Regions from separate parts of the Homo sapiens genome. Here region 1 is linked to region 2. The links come from fine-mapping of genetic effects on gene expression. Tissue or cell type: whole blood. Region 2 holds a variant in brackets; the other region holds the start of a gene. All regions are shown on one strand. Distances are between the middles of the regions.

Evidence for each region. PIP is the estimated chance that this variant, and not a neighbour inherited with it, causes the effect.
Region 1: FARP2 starts here. The variant in region 2 is fine-mapped to the expression of FARP2 in whole blood (INTERVAL, PIP above 0.99).

The regions. Positions count from the first base shown.
Region 1 is chr2:241,354,618-241,357,369 of GRCh38, forward strand. FARP2 (FERM, ARH/RhoGEF and pleckstrin domain protein 2) reads left to right here and starts at 1,668. Exons shown (of 27, transcript NM_014808.4): 1 at 1,668-1,771. RefSeq lists a silencer at 1,456-2,005.
Region 2 is chr2:241,269,870-241,272,621 of GRCh38, forward strand. All of the region lies in intron 1 of HDLBP (high density lipoprotein binding protein), which reads right to left. It overlaps HDLBP-AS1 (HDLBP antisense RNA 1), which reads left to right and starts at 2,295. Exons shown (of 2, transcript NR_168372.1): 1 at 2,295-2,752. RefSeq lists an enhancer at 2,109-2,188 and a silencer at 2,329-2,638. The variant A/G (reference allele first, on the strand shown) is at 1,124.

The sequences.
Region 1 (2,752 bases), 85 kb after region 2:
AACTTGCTCTCTCTAGTTCCTCAGCTGACAGCTGCCACGCCTGCTGCCTTCCCTCCAGACTGCCAGCCTCAGGTCACCAGCACACACCCTGCATCCTACCAGGGGTCAGTACCACCCTCTGGCCAGGCTCTCACCTGCACTATCCCCACCCGGCCCTGCCCGTCTGCAGGCAGGGATCCTCTGTTCTGGGGTGTGTGCACCACTCTGGGCCTGGTGGTGTCATTGGGGGTTGGTTAAAGGAAAAGCCCCAGAGGTGGGTGGCACATGAGGGGAGCATCCCGCACAGCTGAGCCCAGTCTTGGTGTGCCTGGGTCTCAGACCCCATAGTTGTCTCAGGAGAAATGGAGGTTCCCCTGAGCCAGCATTTCTCCTGTCTGGGCTTCTGGGAAACGAAGGGTCAGGTTTCACTCTGGAATCCACAGCACCATAGGAGGAGTCTCTTAAGTGCCCGGGTGTTTCCTGAAGTTAATTATTCCCTCAACAGCCACATGGTGACAGTGGGTGACAGGGCCGGGCTAGGAGAGCACGATGGGTAGGGTCTTGAAGAACACATAGGAGTTCAATGAACTTCTCAAGAGAAGGGAAGTGTGCCACAGCAAGTCAGTCTTCCATTCTCGGGTGGGGGTCCCTAGGCCAGAGGAAGGCCGTCCTGGCCGCCACCACGGAGCAGCCTGTCTCAGCCTTAGCACAGCCTCGCGCGATCCTTCGATGATCCCCTTCGGTCCCTGTAGTCCCACGAGGGATGCAATGCGTTGGAGGAAGGAGGAGGCTGGCAGCCAGGGACTGAGCCAAAGGGTGCAAGGACAGCCGGCAAGGCCCGGGCCAAGACCTATCCCCGCCCAGCGAGCCAGGCCTCGCCCAGCACCTATCCGCGCCCAGCAAGCCTAGGCCTCGCCCAGCACCTATCCGCGCCCAGCAAGCCTAGGCCTCGCCCAGCACCTATCCGCGCCCAGCGAGCCTAGACCTCGCCCAAGACCTAGCCCCGCCCAGCGAGCCGACTCCCCGCCCAGGACCTAGCCCCGCCCAGCGAGCCGACTCCCCGCCCAGGACCTAGCCCCGCCCAGCGAGCCGACTCCCCGCCCAGGACCTAGCCCCGCCCAGCGAGCCGACTCCCCGCCCAGGACCTAGCCCCGCCCAGCGAGCCGACTCCCCGCCCAGGACCTAGCCCCGCCCAGCGAGCCGACTCCCCGCCCAGGACCTAGCCCCGCCCAGCGAGCCGACTCCCCGCCCAGGACCTAGCCCCGCCCAGCGAGCCGACTCCCCGCCCAGGACCTAGCCCCGCCCAGCGAGCCGACTCCCCGCCCAGGACCTAGCCCCGCCCAGCGAGCCGACTCCCCGCCCAGGACCTAGCCCCACCCAACGAGCCGACTCCCCGCCCAAGATCTAGCCCCGCCCAGCGAGCCTTGGCTTCGCCTAGGACATTGCCTCGCTCAGCAAGCCGACGCCCCGCCCAACGAGCCGAGCGCTGCACAGATTTATATCCTACGCAGCTGCCTGCCTGCTCCCGCCCCTTCTCCGTCCGTTCACCAATCAGAACTCGATCTTGCGCTTTCAGGCCGCGGGACGGGAAGGCTCCGCCCTGGCGCCCCGCAGGCCAATCGACTGCGCGTCCGCGTCGCGGGGGCGGGGTCAGGGCGGGGCGCGCTGCGCGGGGGCTGCCGGCGGGCAGTTGGGAGCAGGCGACGCCGACGCGAGTCTGGCGGCTGCTGCTTGCGACTGCGGAGGCCGGGCGAGGCCGGTGAGGACGCGGCGGGCGAGCGAGAGGCCGAGGGTGAGGACGTGAAGCGGCCTGGGCGCGTGGGGCAGGGGTGGGCCTCTCCGGGTGGGCGGCGAAGCCCGAGGCCCGAGGCGAGAGGCCCAGGCGGGGGGGGCGCTGAGGCCGCGGTCCACCAGAGATGGTCCCGCCCGGCCTCTGAAGGCCATCGTGAGGCGGCTGGAGCTCCTAGGCGGGTCCGGGTTAGAGGAGCGTCCGTCTGTAGGGAGCCTGCCGCGTGGGGGCAGGCGGGGCGGTGGGCCGGGGAGTGGCCCGCGTGGACTCCCGGGTTGAGGGGTGCCGCGTGGAGGAGGCCGGTGGGGCTGTAGACCGGGGAGTGTCCCGCGTGGACTCGCGGGTTGAGTTGTGCCCCGTGGAGGCCGGCAGGGCCGTGGGCCGGGGAGTGTCCCATCCCGGAAGGACACCCCAGAGTGGGCCATAGGGACCCGCAGGGTATGGGCCTGGAGGTGCCTGGTGGAGGCATTTTGAGCCGTTTGCCTTTTTAGCATTTCTTTAAATTGTATCTTAAAGGTGGGAATCAAGTGTTAGGTGTTAATATTTTTACTCCACTAAGGGCTAGAAATACTCATAAGCCAGTGGGTAGCCTTTGGGAAACCCATGAAAACTGGGGACCAGAATATGGCCCAGTACATTACACACCCGAATTACGGGCACCTTTTCCGTTTACGCTATGGCAGCAACCCCTGGCCTATCATGTGCCATTAATGGATGTGAAAAGCAGAAATTAGAACAAGGCATCATTGAAGGAAAGATTGTCAATACATAGTGTTAAAAAGGGATGGGCAAATTTAAAACCCAAGGCCAAATCTTTAAAGGGTGGTTTTTCTCTCTGGGTTTTTGTTTTTGTTTTGTTTCCGTGGGATATTTTTGTCTGGGCCACTGTGTAAATGTTTGATAACCCTGAGGTGGCAGTGGGTTAGCGTGTTGGTCTTGTGTAGACTGCCTTATAACAGGCGACACAGATTTTCTCAGTACCAG
Region 2 (2,752 bases):
CCCGCATCCACCCTCCGCCCTCCCACGCTTGCTTGCTGACTCTCACCTGGCATGGTCTCTCACTCAAGGTTGTCCCGGGCTCCAATGTCACTTCTTAAACCCAGACACCCACCCCCTTATCAAGCTAGGTTCTGGGCAAGTCTCTAGTGCCCAGTGACAGCCACACTAGAAGTCTGCAAAATGCAGTTCCGTCCATGTCAGCCCGCACCGACTCTCCAGCACGGAGCTGTGATGAGCCAATCCCCACTGTGCACCCAGTGTCAGTCTCTTCTGAGACCACTCACACACCCTTCAGAAGCCAAGTCCAGCCGGACCCTATACTGAAAGGAGTCTCAACATAAGGGAACCTACTCCTGTGTCTGAGGGAGACCCTGGAGCAGAGCCTCTCATGTTCCTCAGGCGTGCACAGACCCTCAGGCAGCCAGGTAAGGCAGAAGGCAGACCTCCAGAAAACTCCAGACTGGTTTGACAGGCTATACTGGGTCCCTAGCCTCCAGATTCCAAGTGGCAGTTTGTCAGAGCGTGTAACGAATGGTTCACAACTAGAGACACATTTAACATCTAGGGTTCTGGTATCATCAAACAACATTTTGTTTTTCTTCTAAACAACTCAAAAACCTGTTTTCGAAGACTGCGTTTTAAGCAAGCATTTGATGACCCACATGTAAATGCAGACCCTGTCCCCACCTGAAATTCTGGGTGAGATTTTCTTAAAAGTCAGTCTCATTCTCCTTCTGTGCTCCCAATCCAGTGAGGCACAGCCCAGGGGTCCACCTGCCTCTGGTTCAACAAAGCAGCACCTAAGAAGCTGACCCTACAGCCCCATGTCCACCCCGCACTGCTACGCCCTGCTCCTGGCTCTGCCTTCACAGACAACACCCACGAGGGTTTAATCCTGTTCCATGTGGATCTTTCAGCAACCCCAGGACAGCGCCAGGCAACTCCACTTGCTATCTGAAGTTCCCAGGATACCTTGGGCAGGCCTAGATACCCAAGAACAGAGGCTAACATCGGGTATCTCAGATTCTCACTGGATCTAACAGTACTGTCCAAATCAGGATTGAAAGGAACCTCAGATATTAATCTAATCCCATTTCTTAATACCACCAGGGACAGGAAATTC[A/G]TGGCCTTCTCAGGGCCCGGGTCCACCCCTGCATGGCTGTAAACGCTCCACCTCAAGTTATGACAAAATCTACAACTTCTTTCCCCTTTCTGGCCATGGAGAACAAGTCCGCTCTCCTCCAAGGCTCCTTCTGGTAGGTGAGCCCTATCTCCTGTCTCCTTCAGTCCCTCCCATATGGCCCCAGTCCCTTCGTGATTCTGGCTCTCCCAACTACTTTTCCCATAGGAAGCTCGGATCAATCAGTGTCCAGGTCCACCTAATGTAAACCTCAAACTATACTGAACCTGGACTTTTAATTTTGTTTCCCAGAGTGCAAACATCCAAAGCAAAAAAGGTCACATCTCAGAATTTAACTTTCAGCAAACAGAACTAGAACTAAAGGAAGGAGGGCAGGAACCAAGACCCCTTTCCGCCCTAATACGTGTAGAGCAAAACGTGGAGTCCTGACAGAGCTGTGTGTTGCGTGGGAAACCTGGTGCTTACAAGTTTAGCACAAGTCTAACAGGTTTCTGACAGCAACAAAAAAGGCTTCACATGAGGGGTTCTACTTTTTTGCTTTTAAACGAGGAAGTAATTAAGTTGATTCCCTTGTGATAAGTTTTGCCAACTACATATTCAAGGGGCAACAGTCTTCGAAGAGAATTATCAGTAATACTCCAGGAAGAATTTCATTTCAGCCTCAGTTAATGAGACCCGCAAGTGCTTTAAAGCACCAGACAGGACCGGGTATGGAGGGCACCAAAAAAGCCTCCGGCTGAAACCCAGACTTCTCCTCTTCCAAAACTAAAATTACTCAAGACCACAAACCAAAGTTCAGAATGGGAAAATAAAATCCTGATCCACTCAGAGATCACAAGATCGAAATCTAGGAGAGACCACAGGCGACTGGCGAGCAGAAGGCAGGCTCCGCTCCGCACTTCTCACCAAGTTCTGGAAGTCGGCACCCATCCTGCATGGAGGAACTTTCGCAGATGCCACCTCAGCACGGCCCTCCCACAGGCCACGAGGGCCCGCGGGCGGGGACAGGCTTAAAGGGACAGCAACCCCTCGGCCTCCCCGCCTTTCATCCAAATTCGGTACTTTTCCGTAATGTATTTTTCATCCACGACCCTGGGGCACGTCCAAGTTGCACTCCAGGCCCAAGAAGAGCAGCTTTCCCCACCCCCGAACACGTAGACTGACGCGGGCCCCGCGCGGCAGGTGGAGGTGCTGCGGGGGCCCCGCCGCCCGGTCTGCGCCCAGACCCCCGCCCCGCCGCCACCTGGGGGGAAGGACCCCGCTGGCCTCCCAGGGACCCCCACCCTGGCCGCACACGGCGCCCCCGCCGGAGCGGGGGAGGGGAGGGCCGGCCCCGCCAACGTCAGCGACCTGGGCTCAGGTCGGCCGCCCCTCCGCGCCGTGCGGCCACGGCACCAGGGGTGCCCCACCGAAGCCCCGGGAGGAGGCGGGGGAGCCCAGCTTGCAGCCAAGAGCGGCCCAGCGGCGCCACCGGACTTGAGAAAGTTTGTGCGCGCCCCTCCGCGCCACGGCCACGCGCAGAAGAGACTCGGAGCCGGCCCCAGGTCTGGCCCGGAACCGCCACGCGCGGTAAGCAGGACACCCGCGGGCGGGGGCCGCAGCCTGGGGCCC